2 separate regions of the Homo sapiens genome follow, and region 2 is linked to region 1. The links come from fine-mapping of genetic effects on gene expression. Tissue or cell type: whole blood. Region 1 holds a variant in brackets; the other region holds the start of a gene. All regions are shown on one strand. Distances are from middle to middle.

Region 1 (11,109 bases):
CCTGGGTAGCTGGGACTACAGGCGTGCACCACCACGCCCAGCTAATTTTTCTATTTTTAGTTGAGACGGGGCTTCACCATGTTGGCCAGGATGGTCTCGATCTCTTGACTTCGTGACCCACCCACCTCGGCCTCCTAAAGTGGTGGGATTACAGGCGTGAGCCACCACAACCTGCCAAAAAAAATTTTTTTAACGTTAACTGCCAGACTCCCACCAAAATCCTTGCAGCACTGGAGGCAGAAGGCTTGTGGGCCATTCCAGGGCATCAGGCTTAGAAGGATGGAGTAAAGAGGGTGAAAATGTCAGAAGCAGCAGACTCTTTGCCGCCCAAGTGTAGCCATGGTTAGATGTTGCCAGGAATCATGAAAGCTAAGTCAGTGGTGTGGAGGCCTTTGTCTCTTCTTTCTGCTAGGAGTTGCTCTTGTAATCAGGATCAGCTACGTTTGTATGTTGCTTCAGCTCTGAGTGTCCCCAAATCAGCACAAGATGATTTTTTGGTGTTTCACACAGGGAATGTCGCGAGTTATTTATTTGTATTTCTTTATATCTTATTTATGGGGGTTTACTTTGGACACCAGGAAATGCATCTGAGTGAACTTCAAATACTAACCTTTTCCTACAAACCAGGCTTTTGATGTTGGCTGTGATCAGAGGCTGCCTTCAGAGTGGTTGCCAAATGAAGATGCGAGTGGACGCATGTGTGCATGAGTCTGCTATTTCAAAGTCGCCAGAAAATGACATTCAGGTTAGGTCGGGCACGGTGGAGTCAAAAGGCTAAGCTAATTGGCTCGGCTCAAATGGCAGCTAAGTGGAGTCCACACTTCAAAACCATGCTCCCCAGAAACAGCTGGGCCCGGCAGCAGGCTCGTTAACTAAAATGTTTATAATTAAAGGAGACCGTATAGGGACCACAACTCTGGTGCTCTCCAGCCCACAGGCTTGAGCAGCCAGGAAACTGATCACAGACTTTTAGAGCTTGAATAAAAGAAGAGAGGCCCCCTTTTGGAATGAGGGGCTGTTTTGGAAGAAGATTCTTGGCTGGAGGGAATTAAAGCCACATTTCCTTGAAGGTGCCTGTTAAGCCTTTCTGAGCCTCTACAGGCTGACATCTTCCTTTTCTGCTCTGGTTACAAGTTGCCTTTCCAGCAGTTTAGTCCTTCACCTGCCCTGGGTAATGGAGTGTGTGTGGTGGTGGTGGTGGGGGATGGGGGGCGGGGTATGAGGTGCTTATGAAATCATTTGTTCCTTTTGCCTTCAATATTGCAGTTATCTACTCCCCTCCCCATCCCTACCCCCATCCTGTTTTTTTTTTTTAACCTTATTATATGGAAGAAGAAAAAGAGGCATAAAAGCTCTACCACTGACTTTCATCTGGGAGAAGGAAGAGTGAAAGCTACCAGTGGAAATGTCAAGAGTCTTGGAGGGGGTGGACGGGGGACTCTTCTAGGACTCTTGAAGCCTTATGTCACTTGTGTCATGGTGGGGTCCATGGAGTGCTTGACTCCTGCCCCCAAGACTGTCAGGAACAGGGCTGAAGCAGAGTCATCCACTGTCTAAGTCCCTAGAAGAGAGATGGAGGATAGACATTGTCTTACAGCCCTAGGGCAGCAGAATTTGGTTAGACCAGCATGAGCCCAATCTGTGGGATACCGCCACCCCTACCATACAAGGTATCTTAGGTGAGAGATGGGGATATTCAGCATGGCTTGGGAACCACCTGGCGAGCCCCATAGCTAGTGAGTACTAGGTGGTTGGGGAGGACTTCCCAGAAAATTCCACAAATTTCCCCCTCATGCCTTATCAATGTCAGGTGACTGCGTGGGGCTTAGGAAATGGCATCTCCACATTAAGACCATCAGGAAGCTTGACTGCTGATTGGGGCTGGGAAGGGCATCTTATTGAAATGACCAAGTGTAGGTTGTTACAGATGCCTGTTCTGGAGTCCAGCAGTGGCTTGGGTATGAGTTGTCAATCTGCTACTGACTGTAACACTAGGTGAGCTATTGAGCATTTCTGGTCATCTGTAAAATGTGGCTCATTAAGGTTCTTATGAGAATGAAGTCTGATTATAGGTCCAATGTCTGACGTACAGTAGGGACTCGGTATCTATGAGCTGGCATTCTCAGGTTGGCATCAGTTGCCTTGGGTGCGATTTGGTTTCTGGTCAAGCCAGGCATGCTTATAAGTCCCGTTTTCAGCTACCCAAGGTGAAGACACAGAGTTTTGATAAATAATCTTTAGGTGGGCTTGGTCAGGTGCCGAGCCTCATGAGTAGGAGGCTGTTTCTCAGTCATGAGTAGAAGACGTGTTTCTCCAGCACTGGTCAGCCAGCTGCTGCGAATCCTTCCCACAGTGCTCTGTCTCTGCTCCATACTTACCTTTCTTTGGGGCAGTACTCACACTTGGGGGTAAGTTGTTGCTCTGGATACTGATCTCTCTTCTCTCCCTTCCCTACTCACCTCAGTGCAATTATCGTTTATGCACTCCTTAGCCAGGGTTTGGTTAACATACATTGGTTTGTTGATCTATTGGAATCTTCATTGTCCCTTGTGTTCCTGTTTTCTGACCTAGGTCAGTAGACTTCCTGAAAATGCAGCTATTTAGAATTCTAGGGCATTTCAGATAAGGAGCTAGAGGTTGACTAGTTACTCCTGGCTTGCCCCCTGGGTATTTTTAGACATTGCTAATTATCCTATTTTTCTTCCACCCTATGATGAACCAGACATTGGGGAAAGGGAAGTAGCCAAACACCCAATTTCAATATTTACAGCCTCCAAGTATGATTCATTATGAAAATGTTTGCACCCTGAGGCTTTTGTAAATAAGTGGCCTCCTGAAGGGACATCAATGGGAAAATAGTCACACCTTGACCATTCTGCTTTTAAGAAGGAAATTCTTTCTGGAAAAAATCATGGCAACTCTAGGTCATAGTTGTAGTGAACACTAGCTGGAGTGGCAGCTTTTTAAAAATTCTTCTACTTGTTAATGTTTTGTTTTTAAAAATATAATGGATAGGGGCCCATACTTCTTCAGGTCTTTGCCCAAAGGTCCCTTTCTCAATGAGGACTTGACACCCACATCCAATTTAAATTTGCAGCTTACCCACTCACCAGTGATTCTCCTTTTCCTGCTGTGTATTTATTCATAGTACATATCACTAACATACTATTTTTTATTTTGTTCATTGCCTGTGCCTCCCCATTAGAATGTAAACTTCAAGAGGGCAGTTGTTTGAATTATGTATCCACTTTGTCTACTGCTCTCTTGCCTAGTGCCTAGGAGAAGATCTGGCACATAGTAGGTGCTAATCTTTAAATGGATTGCACAGACCACCACATAGTAGGGGCTTTTCTCTTCATGCCCACATTGGTCATGTGTCTTTGAAAATTCATTGGTTGGGGGTGGTAGGGTTTGGAGCTGAGAGAAGGGGCCTAAATGTTATATATTCTTTTTATTAATCACGCTGTACTGGTTTATAAAAAGAAATACATTTGGAAATGACTAGGAGGTTGACTTGGAGAGTTATGCATGCTTCACTAATGCCTGATTTAGCCCTCTGTAGGTTTGGTTCTTATCCCTACAACTTTCTGCCCTGGCCCTATCCATAAGGCACTGGTTCCTGGTTTGAAGCAGTGGGAACAAGTGGGAGGACCAGTGGGGCCTGAGAATCTCCTACTTAGGGCACCTGTAAAATAGGGGAGCCTTTGCTCTGCCTGGGCTGGCTGGAGTGTAACCCAGTTCTAAGACAACAGTCCGAGAGATTAACTTTCCAGGCTCTTTCCAAGTTGATGCTTCTGCATCCAAGGAAGCCAAGTTTCCATAGATGATTGATGGGCAGGATTTAAATTTGACCTTGGGTGGGTCCTTCCCTGTGGGAGCACCGATGGTATCTGGAGACATGTGACACTCCTATGGAAGCATGTGGCCCTGTCGGCGGGATCTCAAGATGGCATATGACAGTAGCCCATGTGATGTGCTGAAAACATCCTCGTAAGCCTGTGGATTCTGTCTTTTCCTTTCCCTTAGAGATGGAATTCCTCCTTATCGTGTGGGCAGTAAGAAACAGCTCCAGAGAGAAATGCATCGCAGTGTGAAGGCCAATGGCCAAGTGTCTCTACCTCATTTCCCGGTGAGTACAGTCTGGAGTGAGGAGACAGCTGTTTTCTGCCATGTTGAGTCCTAAAGAAAAGAAATGGGTGGTGGAATGGGGAGAGGTATAGGGAAGGTAGAAAAGAGCAGTACCTAAGGTCCCCTAGGGCAAAGGGAGAGAAAAGAACTGGACAATAGGCATTACATGGTTTTTTGGGTTGTGATGGTGAGCACAGTGATGTGATTATGAGGTATCAGTCAGTTTTGCTATAAAGGAATACCTGAGGTTGAGTAATTTATAAAAAGAAGAGGTTTACGGCTGGGCACAGTGGCTCATGCCTGTAATCTCAGCACTTTGGGAGTCGGAGGTGGGCAGATCACCTGAGGTCAGGAGTTCGAGACCCAGCCTGGCCAACATGGTGAAGCCCCACCACTACTAAAAATACAAAAATTAGCCTAGCGTGGTGACGTGCGCCTGTAGTCCCAGCTACTTGGGAGCCTGAGGCAGGGGAATCACTTGAACCTGGGAGGTGGAGGTTGTAGTGAGCTAACGCCAGTGCACTCCAGCCTGGGCGACAGAGCGAGACTCCTTCTCAAAAGAAAAAACAAAGAAAAGAGGTTTATTTGGTTCATGGATCTGCAGGCTATTCAAGAACCATGGCGCCAACATCTGCTTCTGGTGAAGGTCTCAGGGAGCTTTCAATCATGATGCGCAAGGGGAAGGAGAGCCAGTTTGTAACATAGCGGGAGAAACAGCAAGCTGAGGTTGGGGGGGTGGTGGGCAATGCCATGTTCTTTCAAACAACCAGATCTCATATGAACTACAGGGAAAACTTGCTCATTACTGCAGGGAGGGCACGAAACACCTCCCACTAGGTGCACTTCCACCATTGGGGATCATATTTCAACATGAGATTTGGAGGGGACAAGCATCCCAACTATGTGAGAGGTTTGATGACCTATTTTTGAACCTTTGCATTTTCTGAATTCAAAAAAAAAATTCCCTATCAGAAAGAAACTGAAGCACTTATTTCCCAGAAACTAAGAAATGCTAGATGATCCATGCTTCTCTACAGCTTGGTGAGCTCACTGTATTTCCACTAGAATGGAAGCCCTCTGATGGGAGGGAGTTTTATCTATTCTGTTAACCTCTGTATGCACAGAGACTAGAACAGTACCTGACACATAATAGGTGCTCAATAAACATTTGAGTGAATGAATAAGGAACCTCTGCCCCCCCTTGGGACATCCTCCTGCTCTCTTCACTGGGACATTCTACTTCTTGTGTCAACCACAGGACTCCAAGTCATTTTAGTCAGTGATTTTAGTCATTTATTTATGTATTCATTGACCATTTCTCCTCCTGGCTCCTGAAGCCCTGGAGGGTAGCTGTTCCTTTCCAACTCCAGAACTTGGCTTGGTACCTGCTGGTGAGTCTGTGCCTATCAAATGCGGAATGAACGAAGTGTTTAGAAGTGAGGATCTCCTGAGCAGCTTCTTCCTGTGACTGAGATGGTGGATGAAGGGCTCTTCTGGGACCTCTGCTTTTATTTCCATGCTTGCTAAAGCAGCCAGCACATGGCTGTACTCAAGAGAACTTCCCCATCTACATTCCCATTTTAGGGCTGTGCTGTTTACAACAGCCTCAGATCCAGGTTGCAAGGAGGGGAGGGGAAGAAAGCACCCAGCTCACAGCAGGTGTTTATGAATCCTTCCTGCCAGCTTCAGAGAATCTAATTGGTCTGGTTATGTTGTGTTTAAAAAATTAACACATTGAATTGCTAAACCCATGTTGCATTAGTGCACAAACTATAGCTCTTCTCTGAAAGCTCCTCACACAGACAAGGGCAGACTTACCTTGTTTTAAAATTAGCATATTAAAATTGCTTTTCTGAGGACCTCTAGCATCCCCTCCCTCTACAGATAACAAGTATTGATGACATACTATCATTGTTTTTTTGACTGGGGGATATGTGAGTTAACAAAGAAAAGTTCTATCGCCCAAGCTTGTAAATTAGATGATTTTGTCCTGGGGTGTGCAAATCGACTTTCTCCATCAGGCAGCGCTTTGATCAGGGGCTGCAAGGAGCCAGCCTGTGTGAGAATGGCCACCTACACAGGAGCCTTTCTCTTCTTCCCCAGTTTCTGCAGCTAAGTGGTTGCCGTGGCAAGGCCCATCTTTTCAGCTGGGGGAGATGCTAGCCTTTGCAAGTTAGCTTTCTGCTACCCCCACCCCAGCCCAAAGAAAGGAGCTAAGCAAGAGGGAGATTAGGAAGAAGGAGGTAGAACAACTGGAGAGGTGGGGGGTTGGGTGGGGGGAGCGAGATGACAGGAAAAGGACAGAAAGCTGGGCAGCAGGGGTTCTCTCTGTTTGCTGCTTTTGGCAGGCGTACTCGGTGCCTTTTTATATTCTGCACTTGATTTGGAGATGTTCCCTTTTCCCTTGATAGATCAGCTTCAGGCAGCCAAGCTCAGCAGTGTTCTGCTACTAGCCTGCAGCAGCTTTCTTCATTTTCTGTACAAAGAGAGAGGGAGGAGGGAAGGAGAAAAACGAGGGAGATCGAGGACAGTGTTGAGACACCACCACCTCAAAGGTGCGCAGTGTGCGGCCAGGAAATAAATTACCACTTCTTCTCTGATCCAGGCCGTTTGACTCCCTTTTCCCCCACTTTCTTTCCTCCCACCTCCTTTCCAATCTTATTTTTTTAAATTTTCAACTCTCTTTCTGTTTAGATTCTACTTTCTATTCCTTGAGTTGGTCTCTCCCCTCCCCACCTCAGAGGGCTGCCTTTTTTTTTTTTTTTTTTTTTTTTTTTTTTTTTTTTTTGATGGTTGACAACAGTCTTTGAAGATTTTCTACTTCAAAGTAACTACTGATGGGCTGGTTGTACTACAGAAAGAACAAGCAGGGCCTCTCGGAGTGCGACCAACTGCTCCTGCCCAAGGCAAACGCTGGTGGGGACCATGGCTCTCCATGAGGCCATGGCGCTAGCGCATAAAAGTCCCGAGCAGCCCAGGCCGCCTTGCCATCCACTCTACACCCGAACATGGGTTTGCGGTGCACAGCGCCTGGT[G/T]CGGGAAGCTCCGGCCAAGCCACCGCCCACCTAGCCTGCTGAACGTGCCTCCTCCCTTTCCTTTCCACGTCCTGTAGAGAACCCACCGCCTGCCCAAGGAGATGACCCCCGTGGAACCCGCCACCTTTGCAGCTGAGCTGATCTCGAGGCTGGAAAAGCTGAAGCTGGAGTTGGAGAGCCGCCACAGCCTGGAGGAGCGCCTGCAGCAGATCCGAGAGGTAATGCGGCCTAGGCCTTCTTCCTGCTTCCGTCCACGGCGTGAGCGCTCGTATGTGTATGCGCATGTGCATGGGGTGCGTTAGGGTGTGCGCATGTGCGTGGGTTGCATGCGCATGCGCGTGGGCTGCGTGTGGGTGTGTGCCTGGGCGTGGGCTGTGTGCGCATGTGCATGGGTTGCGTGTGGGTGTGCATATGCGTGTGGATATGTGCTTGTGTAGGCGGGCCTGTGCGTGTGCGCATGGGCGTGGCTGTGGGCGTGCACACGGGTGTGCGTGCTCCTGCGTAGGGAGCCGAATGTTGCAACCCCAGGGCCTCTGGCCCTTCTGCTTCCTGGGTCACTTCTCCTTCTGACGTCTTCCCTTTCAGGATGAAGAGAGAGAGGGCTCCGAGCTCACACTCAATTCGCGGGAGGGGGCGCCCACGCAGCACCCCCTCTCCCTACTGCCCTCCGGCAGCTACGAGGAAGACCCGCAGACGATACTGGACGATCACCTGTCCAGGGTCCTCAAGACCCCTGGCTGCCAGTCTCCAGGCGTAGGCCGCTATAGCCCCCGCTCCCGCTCCCCGGACCACCACCACCACCACCATTCGCAGTACCACTCCCTGCTCCCGCCCGGTGGCAAGCTGCCTCCCGCGGCCGCCTCGCCGGGCGCCTGCCCCCTCCTCGGGGGCAAAGGCTTTGTGACCAAGCAGACGACGAAGCATGTCCACCACCACTACATCCACCACCATGCCGTCCCCAAGACCAAGGAGGAGATCGAGGCGGAGGCCACGCAGCGGGTGCACTGCTTCTGCCCTGGGGGCAGCGAGTATTACTGCTACTCGAAATGCAAAAGCCACTCCAAGGCTCCGGAAACCATGCCCAGCGAGCAGTTTGGGTAAGTGCCGGGCGGACCGCAGTGTCCCGTGTGGGGCTTGTCTCCCAGCCAGGTCCATGGGCAGGTGTGAGGTGGGAGCCGCATTACAGGCATTTAGTTTCTAAGAGGGCGGCAGAGTGCACGGCCGGGTGAGGGTGCGGGGAGCAGGTGCATGGGTCTTTCGTGTCACCAGCCCCCCGACTTGCTGAATTGTCTGATTCTAGGAGTCCCGGAGATTTAACCGGGTCTCTGGGTTGGGTGTGGTTCTTGGTTCCCCACAGCGGCAGCAGAGGCAGTACCTTGCCCAAACGCAATGGGAAAGGCACGGAGCCGGGCCTGGCCCTGCCCGCCAGGGAAGGAGGGGCCCCCGGCGGAGCTGGGGCCCTGCAGCTTCCCCGGGAGGAAGGAGACAGGTCGCAGGATGTCTGGCAGTGGATGCTGGAGAGTGAGCGGCAGAGCAAGCCCAAGCCCCATAGGTAAACACCGCTTGCCGCCGCCGCGGCCGCGAGGGTCATGGGCACTCAGTACGGAGGTATTGTGGGAATGGCTGTTTTTGCAGTCCGCGGAATACAAATGTGACTATTTGCTCCTGCCATCTTAATATTAAACGTTGGACTGAGCAGACCACAAAAATGTCATGTTTTGGCACTGACCCCTGTTCATGTTATGGTAGTTTTTTTTTTAACTCTCTCTCTGAGCAGAATAGACAAGTTTCTATTGAAGTCACATTTTCCAGTTCTTCTAACCCAGTTTCTTTCCTTCTGTTTTCTCTCTGCTCATTCCTTGTTTAGTGCCCAAAGCACAAAAAAGGCCTACCCCTTGGAGTCTGCCCGCTCGTCTCCAGGCGAACGAGCCAGCCGGCACCATCTGTGGGGGGGCAACAGCGGGCACCCCCGCACCACCCCCCGTGCCCACCTGTTCACCCAGGACCCTGCGATGCCTCCCCTGACCCCACCCAACACGCTGGCTCAGCTGGAGGAGGCCTGTCGCAGGCTAGCTGAGGTGTCGAAGCCCCCAAAGCAGCGGTGAGTGGAAGTGAAGGGTCCTAGGTTGAGGCAGGGATTGGGTTTGGGTGGAGACCTGGTCTGTGGCTAATGGGGAGGGCCTCTCTTTCTGCCTGGGTCTCAAACCCTCCCATGAGAAGAAGAATTACTTATGGATGAGTAAGCTGCTGCTTTCCAGCTTCTAGAAATTGTTCCCTTCAGTTATGTTCATTCTACTAGAGTTAAGCCAGGATCTGTGAGGCAAGTCATGCCTAGAATTGGGAGAATGAATTTCAGCAATTGCTTACAAATCCCATTCCTTACAAATGTCTTGATTGTTTAAGGCTGGTTAGTTGAGTATATAAGAAGCTGTGAGATGGAGGATCAAGAGTCCTCAGCCCTTTGCTGGGGCTGAGAATGTCCCATCCTGGGCTCCCAGGGGGGCTTAGAATGGCTGTTCCAAGACGTCTTCCTGGCCTCTTCAGCCACTGTTAACCCAGGGTCTTGGTTGGGTCTCCGTAAGGATGGAAGTCGGGTTCGTGTCTCTTCAGGAGGCCAAATAGTAATTTTCTGTCTGCTTTTCAATTGCTCTGGGGACAACAGTGTACCTCTAAATCCCTCGCCCTGGCTGTGTCCTCAGGTGCTGTGTGGCCAGTCAGCAGAGGGACAGGAATCATTCGGCCACTGTTCAGACGGGAGCCACACCCTTCTCCAATCCAAGCCTGGCTCCAGAAGAGTGAGTGTCTTTACCTGACATTACTGAGATCTGCCGAGTGCTTTATGTTTCAGAATATTCGCTATCTGGAGTTTCATTTTCATGAAACTTTTTTTGGTTTTTAAAATCACTTTGATTTTAGCGCTAGTGATGAGGAACAGTAAACGTAGATGTTGCCATCCATGTCCTGCCGACAAATGCATCATAGCAAAAGTTTTTCTGGTCATACACAAATCAAAAGCTGGGACATGAAGCCATTAGCAGAAGTGTAGAAGGGACCTCAAATTCAGCTGGAAAAGTTGCCCCCATTCAACTTGCAATTTAGTAGTACTGGAAACATTTGTCACCCCTGAGCAGAAAGATCATTCTCCACTGTGGCAGAGGTGGAGGGGACCATCCTTGTGTTTTTGTTTGGAGAAGACAGAATATCTTCCCCCAAATTGGGCAGTGATTCTTTTTGTAAATTTAGTCTCTTTCAAAGTAGGTTGAGGAGCCTGCTCGTTTAATTACTGGATGGTGCAATTAAAAAGAAATCTGCTAAAGAGATCTAAAATGGTCTGTATCAAGTTTTCTTTCTTAGTGTCTTCATCCTGAGCAATGAGCAATGTTTGAAGTCCTCAATAGGCCACTGCCCTGGACCCTTTCATTGTTTCAATTGGTTGACCCTAAGTGTACCAGCTCTCTGGGTCTGGGCCAGCCACTTTTTTTTTTCTTTTTGAGACAGAGTCTCGCCCTGTTGCCCAGGCTGGAGTGCAGTGGCTTAATCTTGGCCCACTGCAGCCTCCGCCTCCTGGGTTCAGGCAGTTCTCCTGCCTCAGCCTCCCGAGTAGCTGGGATTGCAGGCGCCCACCACCACACCCAGCTCCTTTTTTGTATTGTTAGTAGAGACAGGGTTTCGCCATGTTGGCCAAGCTGGTCTCAAACTCCTGACCTCAAGTGATCCGCCCACCTCGGCCTCCCAAAGTGCTGGGATTACAGGCGTGAGCCACCACGCCCGGCCTAGCAGCCTTTTTTTCAAGCCATTCTACAAAATCTCAGAAGAAATGGGGAAATGGACATGACTGTGTGATAACCCCCATTAGTTGTTCTCATTCTGCTGGAATAAGGGGTGGGCTTTAGGCATTCTGAGATCATGCCATCCCAAAGGTGTCCTGCTCTGGGTTTGTCTCTTT
Region 2 (9,555 bases), 23 kb before region 1:
CAAAAATAAATAAATACATACATACATACATAAAATAAAATAATAATAATAAAGAAAAAAGAAAGCAAAACCTCTTTCTGGATTTGTTTTAATATAGGTATATCGGTGCTCTCCTCTGGTTACAAGCTCAGGCCAACTCCTAAAAGCCAAACTTGAAGACCACGAAGGGTGAGATGCTGAAAAAAAATCAGCAGTTTGCAGCTCTATTTACAATCCATAATAAAAGCACTTGAAAGTCAGTCCAATTAGGAAGTTTTAAATTACTGTTTAACTGTGTTTTAAATTTCATATTAAAAAAAGATATTTTATCAACAAATAAATTCCCCCAACACTTCTGAAGATGGGATTTCTTTTCTTTTCTTTTGAGGCAGAGTCTCACTCTGTCGCCCAGGCTGGAGTGCAGTGGCACGATCTCGGCTCACTGCAACCTCTGCCTCCTGGGTTCAAATGATTCTCCTGCCTCAGCCTCCCGAGTAGCTGGGATTACAGGTGTCTGCCACCACACCAGGCTAATTTTTGTATTTTCAGTAGAGATGGGGTTTTGCCATGTTGGCCAGGCTGGTCTTGAACTCCTGACATCAGCTGATCCACCTACTTGGGCTCCCAAAGCGCTGGGATTACAGGTGTGAGTCACTGCACCTGGCCTTGAAGATGGGATTTCTTAGGGAAACCTTACTTTTCCCCTTGTGGCTTCAAAATCTCCACCTTGGCATTCCCAGTCCCTCCTCTGCAAAGGGGAGAGGAAGTAGGTCCATTCCTCCTTAGGTGGATCAACTCCACGGAGATGCCCATGTAAATGGCTGCCACTCTAAAAGACGTGGGTCAAACTGTCCCAGATCAGGCTGTGGGTAGCCCAGCTGGCAGAGCCAAGGCAACCTACCTACAGGTAGGGGCTGGATGAAGCGTGCCTTAGAGGGATTTCAGACAGAAGCCCTGTTGTGATTCTTTCAGGAAAGTATCCCAGATTGTATGTATTAGTCCTGTTGTAAAAGTCAAGACCTCCAGATGGTCTCACCCCCTCCATCTCAGCCAGCCCCTCCCTGGGTCTCCTCACTATGGTGTGGAGGAAAAAGAGGCTGGGCCAGGAGTCAGGACCCCTCAGAAGTTCCAGCTCATCTCTGATATGGGCAAAGTGATCCTGGGGAAATCTCACTTTCTCTTTGCTTAATTTGTCTGATTTCTTTCTTTCTTTCTTTCTTTTTTGGAGACAGAGTTTCGCTCTTGTTGCCCAGGCTGGAGTGCAATGGCGCAGTCTCCGCTCAATGCAACCTCTGCCTCTCGGGTTCAGGCGATTCTCCTGCCTCAGCCTCCCGAGTAGCTGGGATTACAGGCATGCATCACCATGCTCAGCTAATTTTTGTAATTTTAGTAGAGACAGGGTTTCACCATGTTGGACAGGCTGGTCTCGAACTCCTAACCTCAGGTGATCTGCCCACCTCAGCCTCCCAAAGTGCTGGCATTACAGGTGTGAGCCACCACACCCAGCCAATTTGTCTGGTTTCTTAAATGAAGGGTTGGACTAGATAACTCTTGAATGGCCCCTGGGCTTATTTCTTTCTGCATAGGACTATCCTTGAAAGATGGTAGCAGGGCACAGCCTCCTTTATCTCCTTTAGGCCCCCTATGGTCAGCCTCCTGGGGTCATTCTTCCCCAGATCGTCACTCCCAATGGACGGTATCTTTGCTTTGGAGATAGGGAGTTTCTTCCCAGAATAGGTAACAGGCTATTGAGGGAACAGACTTACTCTGTGAAAATAACCGCCATGTTCTATTGTGTGTCCAGCTCTGTGCCAGGCATTTATCGTATTGCTCAGGCTCACAACAGCCTTTGCAGGGGAGGTTTCCTCCAGTCTACAGGTGAACAAATGGAAACTCCGTGTGGTTAGGTAACCTCCAGTCTTAGGAAAGGTTACCTGTGTCTCTCTTCACCTTCCTCCCCAAACAAAGGTACATTGTCTAAGGCAGCACTTTTCCAAAGGAATAAAAGACAAAGTTACTGAATCTGAGAGAGCAGTGTCCTGGGTCTCAGCTCCTCTGAAGTCCCAGCTGGTGTGACTTCCCCTCCACAGTGGTTTTTGTGGGGCTGACTAAAGGTCAGAGATCTGGCCAGATGCCTCCCAGGGAGCCCTTAGTCCTTGTTTTCTGGGATTCTAGGATTTCAGCCCAGTATATAATTCCAGCAAAGAATCACTCTCTGCTTTATTAAACTTGTCTGCACTTAGGCAAAGTGGACTGTTTATCCTCCGTAGGGTTTTTCTTTAAAGGTGGAGCGGGGGGGCGAGTGAGCATGTGCAGAAATCCATCACCTTGCTTTCCAGTTTCCAGGCAACCGTGCAGGATTACAACAAGTCACATGATAGCGCTGCTGCCAGGGACAAGGGGAAAATGGAAAACGTGCTATCTTGAGAAACGGGCTGCTATAAGCACAGGACTTTGGATTCTCCTCTAGAAATATTATCAACAAGTAGTCAGAGACCCAGAGGCTAGAGAGAGGGCTTTCCAGTACTTGGCCCAGCCTCCTGCTGGGAGGGAAGTGTCCCACCAGATATAAAGCTGTAGGAAAGGGGACAGGCCAGGGGTGATGGTGGAGGGAGTCACTGCCCTAAAGTGACCCGAGCACCTGTTCTGGAAACCATGCTCTCAGAGGAGTTATTTTTTATTTATTTATTTTTTGAGACGGAGTTTGCTCTTGTTGCCCAGGCTGGAGTGCAATGGCACGATCTCGGCTCACCACAACCTCCGTCTCCTGGGTTCAAGCGATTCTCCTGCCTCCGCCTCTCAAGTAGCTGGGATTACAGGTATGCGCCACCATGCCTGACTAATTTTGTATTTTTAGTAGAGAAGGAGTTTCTCCATGTCGGTCAGGCTGGTCTCGAACTCCTAACCTCAGGTGATCCACCTGCCTTGGCCTCCCAAAGTGCTGGGATTACAGGCATGAGCCACTGCACCCCGGCCCTCAGAGCAGTTATTATTGACCGAGAAGATCCAAACCAAACCGGGCCTTGCTCCTGGGTCCCCAGTCCCAGTCCCAGTCCCCTCTTGCTACAGTCGCAGCCATGGGATAATGAGGTAGTCCTTTGGTTAAAGTTGAGCCTACAGTGATTAGGGCTGGTTGGGGGAGGCAGTGACGGGTCGGTGGGGACAACTGGGAGGAGAGGAAAACCACCCACAAAGACCAAGTTTCCACTTCCTTTTTGAAAACCTCTTTTTTCTGAACATTGTTTATTTTGATTTTAGATGTTTTGATTTTTCTCTCTCCCCCACCCCCCACATTGTGTGTGTGTGTGTGTGTGTGTGTGTGTGTGTGTGTGTGTGTGTGACTTTACTGTTGTTTATATGGTAGACACTTTTATGGCAATCCATACCCCTCTGTCTACATTTCTGTTCCAGTAATAACACCCTCTGTGGCCCAAAGACTCCCTGGAACCACAGTGACAGTTTTACTCTTGGCACTCCTGGGGTGGCCAAAGGTGGTGGCTGTGTTCTTGGCCCTGGGCCAGCTCAGAGCTGGTGGCTAAGAGGGTCCATGGGCCACTGACCCCCCAGAATACCAGCAGGCCGGGGCTTTTAGAGCCCACTGGTTTCCTCACACCAGCAGTTGTCCTAAGGCAAAGATGAGTCATCGGGCCACACTCTTTCCCTGGCCTTCCTGGCTGGCTTCAGGGCCACATTTCAGGGCTGGTACTGCTGTCTTTATGCCAACCTGGCTGCCTGGGGTCGAGAGCCTGGAGCTGCAGACCATGGGCACCGAAAGGCAGGTTTTGGGGAGGAGCGGCCACCTGTCATGGCACCCACGAGCCAGAGTCCAGAGTCTTAGACTAGAAAGTCTAAGAGCTTTCTAGTCCCTTGTCACAGTCCCTTAGGCTGAGGGCAGGTGGCGCACAGTCCTGCCACCTGCCCCTTTCCAGCAGATCATGGGTGGTGGATCTTCCTCCTCTTTTTTTCTTTTCTTTTTTTTTTTTGAGATGGAGTCTTGCTCTGTCGCCCAGGCTCACTGCAACCTTAACCTCCTGTGTTTAAATGATTCTCCTGCCTCAGCCTCCCGAGTAGCTGGGACTACAGGCGCCCCCCACCACGCCTGGCTAATATTTGTAGTTTTAGTAGGGACAGGGTTTCACTATGTTGGCCAGGCTGGTCTCGAATGCCTGACCTCAGGTGATCCGCCTGCCTTGGCCTCCCGAAGTGCTGGGATTACACGGGTGAGCCACCACACCCAGCCTCTTCCTTCTCTTTTTCTATGGATACCTAGATAGAGCCACAATTCTTGCATGTTTTAAAGTTCTGAAGGCCTAATGACAGGCCATCTCGCATTTAAAAGGGCTCGTCATCCATTAAGTTGGAGAGTAAGAGCCTTGCACAGCTCTGAGGCCAGGACTCTGCCTTTCACTTCTTGGATCTCTTTGGTTCACACCTTTATGTGTGTGTGTGTGTGTGTTTTTTTTTTTTTTTTTTGAGGGAGTCTCGCTTTGTCACCCAGCCTGGCGTGCAGTGGTGCCATCTTGGCTCACTGCAACCCCCCCACCCCCGTCTCCTAGGTTCAAGCGATTCTCCTGCCTCAGCCTCCCGAGTAGCTGGGACTACAGGCACGTGCCACCACACCCGGCTGATTTTTGTATTTTTAGTAGAGACGGGGTTTCGCCATATTAGGCAGGCTGGTCTCGAACTCCTGACCTCAGATGATCCTCCAGCATGGGCCTCCCAAAATGCTGGGATTACAGGCATGAGCCACCGTCCCCGGCCCTTTGTTTTTTAAAAGGAAGAAAAGTTAATTATTCGCTCATAACATAAGGAATCATTCTATAGCAGCAGCAGAATAAATACACAATGCTCTGGGTTTGTGACATATTTTCTCATTTTAACGGAGAAGAGAAGGTTGTGTGTGCCTTATAAACGTTTTTGGGCAAATGTGGGAGAAATTCAAAGGTGACAATGGGGTGAGGAGTTTTCGATACATTAAAACGGCATGCATGCCTTGTCGTTTGGAGTGGGAAAAAAGATATTCCTATCGGTTTAATATGTAACATATGGCAGAAGAGGGGACTTTGGAAGAGTAACGGGTATGCAGTTGTTTGGGAGAGATGGCCAATGTGTGCCGCTACGAGGGTCTTATGGCCAGCAGGTTAGGAAGCTGGACCTAGGTCTTCAGGGCACTGAGGTATGCCTCCTAACTGGTGTTAGCACTCAGGCCTATACTGGCGGATTCACACCCCACTTTCACACATGCACAAACGCAATTCATCCACCAACTGCAGTCCTATATTTACCCGAACTCAGATGCACGTGCACAAGCGCGCACAGGCATGCACACGCCTCCAGCGGCTGGGCCCGAGTCCGCCCTATGACAGCGGGCCAGCCAACCCCAGGGCCGGAACTCCCTTTATAAAGTCCTCCAAGCCCAAATTCCCAGGGAAACTTGAATAGAGGTAGAAAAGCGTTTGATGATAGAAAAAAAAAAATCTGCTTGCTTGCAGTTCTTGCGATGGCCATAATGCTACCAGAAACTGTTGCATTCCAGAGCCGGGGAGAGCGAGGGCAGGCAGGGGGAGGAGGCGGGAGCAAAGAGGCCGGAGAACTTAAAAGAAGAAATCAGAACTCGGGCTGAGAATGCCCTCGGGGCCGCGGGGGGCTGGCAGGGGGCGGAGGAGAGGCCGGGGAAGGGTTAACGCGGGAGCGGAGCGTGCGGCGGGGGCGGGCCGGGGCGGGGCGGGGCGGGCGCGGGGCGCTGTCCCTTTAAGGCGGGCGGCGCGGGCCGGCCGAGCGCGGCTGTGATTGGCGCGGCGGGATCACTGGCTCCGCGAGCCTGGCCCGGGGGAGTCGGCTGGAGCCGGCTGCGCTTTGATAAGGTCCTGGCAACTCAGTAACAGCCCGAGAGCCGGGAAATAAAAATAACCCCTCAGAGCGATGGATTTCGGGGCCGCCCGGCGGCCGAGGCGCCCGCCGAAGGCCCTGCTGTAAAAGGTGGGGGTGGAAGCTCGGCCCCAGCGGAGCCGCTTCAAAGAAAGCCCCCCTCTTACAGGGGGCGAGGTCGCGCCGAGCCGCGGCGTGGGCGCGGGGGGCGGGAGGGGGCCCGGCCAGGCGGAGGCCGGGCCTGGAGGGGGGCGCGGGCGGGGCGGCCCTGCGGAGCGGTGGCGGGGCTGCGGGGGGCGGCCCGGGGCGCGGCCGGCGCGTACCTCCCTTTCAGGACCGTGCGCTCGGCTCGCGCCTTTGAAGTGCACAGTTAAATCCACAGCGCAGTTTTTGTTGGAAGCGCCCGGAGGACATTTGGTGCGCCGAGTGACTGCTGGAAACAGGACCTGCGTTGAAAGCCGGGCCGGGCGGGGGCGGAGGCCCGCTCGGATCTTTTGCATAAAAGGGGCGGCGGGGCGCGCCGTTCCCCCTCCCCGGCCGGTGGCTTTCGCTCTGAACCCGGGATTGTTGTTTCCCGCACCCCCTCCCCCGCCGCACGACTCCCCATGTTCCCCGACGCCGCGGCCGGCCCGGGGGGGCCCGGGGCTGCCGCCGCGAGCCGAGCCGGGGGCCGGGGCCGGGCCCCTGCCAGGGGCGCCTGCGAGGTCTCGCCGCCGAGCGCGCGCGGGGATCAATGGTGAGTGCCGAGGCCGAGGCGGCCGGGCGGACCGCGCGCTTTGATGTGCGGGGCGGCCCTTTGAAGTTGGCAGGCCGGCTATTTCGGGGCGCGCTAGGGGCCGGCGCGGAGGGGAGCGGCGGACCCGGCGCCCAGCGTTCCGGGGGGCTTGGCCGGGCAGCCTTGCGCGCCCTGCGCCGGAGCCCCCTCCCCAGCGCGGTGACCGGGTTGGCGGGGGGCCCAGAGAGGAGACTTATCCGAGTGGCGGCAGTGGCGGGGGCGGAGAGGGGGCAGATACCCCCCGGGGGTCGCGTCGCTGTCGCGGTTATGGATGTGAGTCGGCGTGTGAGTGCGCGCGGGAGTGCCTTTGGGAGGTGGGATGAAAGGGTAGCGGCGCCCCCCGCTTGCCCTCCCCCGCCCCCCGCCTCTCCTCCGCCCCATCCTCTCCTCCTACTTCTCTTCCCCCTCCCCTTTTCCCCTCCCTGCCGCGGGTCCGCGCTAAGGGGCCCACAGCGCTGGCGGAGGCTCAGTCTGCGCGCAGGACCGGCCCAAGTCCGGGGCGCCCGTGTCCCTCGCGTCCCTCCTCCCGGCCCGGGCCCCTCGCCCGTGGCCGCCCCGGCCCCTTTTGCGGAGAGGCAGAGACTCCGCGCGTCGCCATTTCTGGACTAGGCTGCTGCTTTCTGTGCTTTTTCTGCGGGCGCCTCTGCAAACGGCGGCGCCGGGGACCGACCCCCCGCCCGGGCTCGGGGCGCTGCTGGCGTGTCCCGGGGTTCCGGCCTCGAGGTGTGCCCGCCAGGGCTCTGGAGGCGTTCAGTTGCATTTGGGCCGGGGGACCGGGCCGGAGGGGCTCGGAGGACATGAGAGCCTGGCTTCGGCGGCCTTCGTCTTCCAGGTAACGGGGCCGCTCCACCTCCCACCGCCCGGGTAGCGCGGTGCCAACGGCAGCCCCACTTCTCCGTGGGCCGCGCCGCCCAGCCCCGCGGCTCGAGGCTCTGGTCGGGTTCAGCGTGCACCCATCCCAGATCCGGGGTCCCTGGCTTCTCGCCCGGGGTTGCACCCCGTTCAGCCCCTACCCTTCTTAGTTTGATCTTTTCCGTGCTAGGGAAAGCAGCTTGTTTATTGGTTAGATAAGACTTTTTTCTTTGGAAAAAAGACAGGCTTGAAATCAGTAGAGTTTGGGATTCTTGGCACAGGCAGTAGTGGCGTGAGACGGCTGGTGATCCAGTTTTGTAGGTTTCGCGGATCCGGGAGGTGGGTTGGGGGCACGGGGGCGACGGTTCCGAGGCTTCTCAGCTCTCTCTCAAAGTTTGAAGATGAAAGTCTCCCCTGAGTGAGTTGGTTTCTGGTTTGGGGGGAGGTCAGGGAAGACAGAGGTGTTGACTGAGCTGGATTCTTGGTGGGGGTAGGGGGCGCGTAGCGAACACTCAAATCTGAGTTGGGGAGGGGGTGTTTGCGTGCTGAATCTGGGAGTCCGGGAGCCCAATCCGCCTATGCTGGGCGGGCTTCTCTTGGGCCAGGATCTTCTGAATTTTTAAGGAGTGGGAAGAGGGAGCGCAGAGGGAGGGGGTGGGTGGGGAGAATGGGAACCAGATGCCGGGGAAGGGCACGTTTGGAGCTCGAGTTATCTGTGCAGGGCCGAGTGGGGAAATATACCGAAATTGGTTTCACCTGCACACAGCCTAGCGGCTGGGAGTGCGCCTTTTTGGAGTTGATGGTATCGGGGGAGGGGAAGGGAGGGAAGGCGAGGCGCGGGCTGAGCTGCCCTGCGTGCGCCCTGGCCGAGTGGGTTTTTGGAAGGTTGTGTCTTACACCTCCAGTGTCCCCCTGCCGTCCCCAGCTCTTGCCTTCCTCTCACCTTCCCCGCCTCTTTCCCAACAGCTCCCTCCCACCCCCAACCCCGAAAAGTGTGCAGGGAGCTCAGATTTCGCTTTTGAAAAGCAGCGCCTGATACTTTAGATGAGCACCTCGCAGATAGCTGGGTTGCTTGATTTGAATTTGAGGAGTTGAAAAGCCTGTTTACTTTCTTGCTTTGATGTTGGGTAGATCTGGTTTTGATTAGATCAATACCCTTTTCTCTCTCCCCACCTCCCCCCTTCCTTTTCTTTCCAGAGAGGAGGTTCAGATGAGCCCCTGCTGACTTGAGAGAGACAGAGAGACCACGCCGATTGCTGAGAGGAACTGGAAGAAGAAAAATTCCCAGACTCAGTGGGAAGAGCTCCCTCACCATGAGTAGCGCTATGTTGGTGACTTGCCTCCCGGACCCCAGCAGCAGCTTCCGTGAGGATGCCCCGCGGCCCCCAGTGCCAGGGGAAGAAGGGGAGACCCCACCGTGTCAGCCAGGGGTGGGCAAGGGCCAGGTCACCAAACCCATGCCTGTCTCTTCCAACACCAGGCGGAACGAAGATGGGTTGGGGGAGCCGGAGGGGCGGGCATCTCCGGATTCCCCTCTGACCCGGTGGACCAAGTCCTTACACTCCTTATTGGGCGATCAAGACGGTGCTTACCTGTTCCGAACTTTCCTGGAGAGGGAGAAATGCGTGGATACCTTAGACTTCTGGTTTGCCTGCAATGGATTCAGGCAGATGAACCTGAAGGATACCAAAACTTTACGAGTAGCCAAAGCGATCTACAAAAGGTACATTGAGAACAACAGCATTGTCTCCAAGCAGCTGAAGCCTGCCACCAAGACCTACATAAGAGATGGCATCAAGAAGCAGCAGATTGATTCCATCATGTTTGACCAGGCGCAGACCGAGATCCAGTCGGTGATGGAGGAAAATGCCTACCAGATGTTTTTGACTTCTGATATATACCTCGAATATGTGAGGAGTGGGGGAGAAAACACAGCTTACATGAGTAATGGGGGACTCGGGAGCCTAAAGGTCGTGTGTGGCTATCTCCCCACCTTGAATGAAGAAGAGGAGTGGACTTGTGCCGACTTCAAGTGCAAACTTTCGCCAACCGTGGTTGGCTTGTCCAGCAAAACTCTGAGG

What was found. PIP is the estimated chance that this variant, and not a neighbour inherited with it, causes the effect.
Region 2: it holds the start of AXIN2, and the variant in region 1 is fine-mapped to the expression of AXIN2 in whole blood (INTERVAL, PIP above 0.99). The same link has a PIP of 0.9 or more in T cells.

What each region holds. Positions count from the first base shown.
Region 1 is chr17:65,534,475-65,545,583 of GRCh38, reverse strand. AXIN2 (axin 2) reads left to right here. Exons shown (of 11, transcript NM_004655.4): 4 at 4,027-4,129; 5 at 7,241-7,381; 6 at 7,749-8,260; 7 at 8,521-8,715; 8 at 9,031-9,264; 9 at 9,863-9,958. Among named protein-coding and RNA genes, the nearest start is that of AXIN2, 22 kb to the left of the region's middle. RefSeq lists a silencer at 2,727-2,927. The variant G/T (reference allele first, on the strand shown) is at 7,164.
Region 2 is chr17:65,557,853-65,567,407 of GRCh38, reverse strand. It overlaps AXIN2 (axin 2), which reads left to right and starts at 5,760. Exons shown (of 11, transcript NM_004655.4): 1 at 5,760-5,958; 2 at 8,672-9,555. The coding sequence starts at 8,788. RefSeq lists a silencer at 5,597-5,746.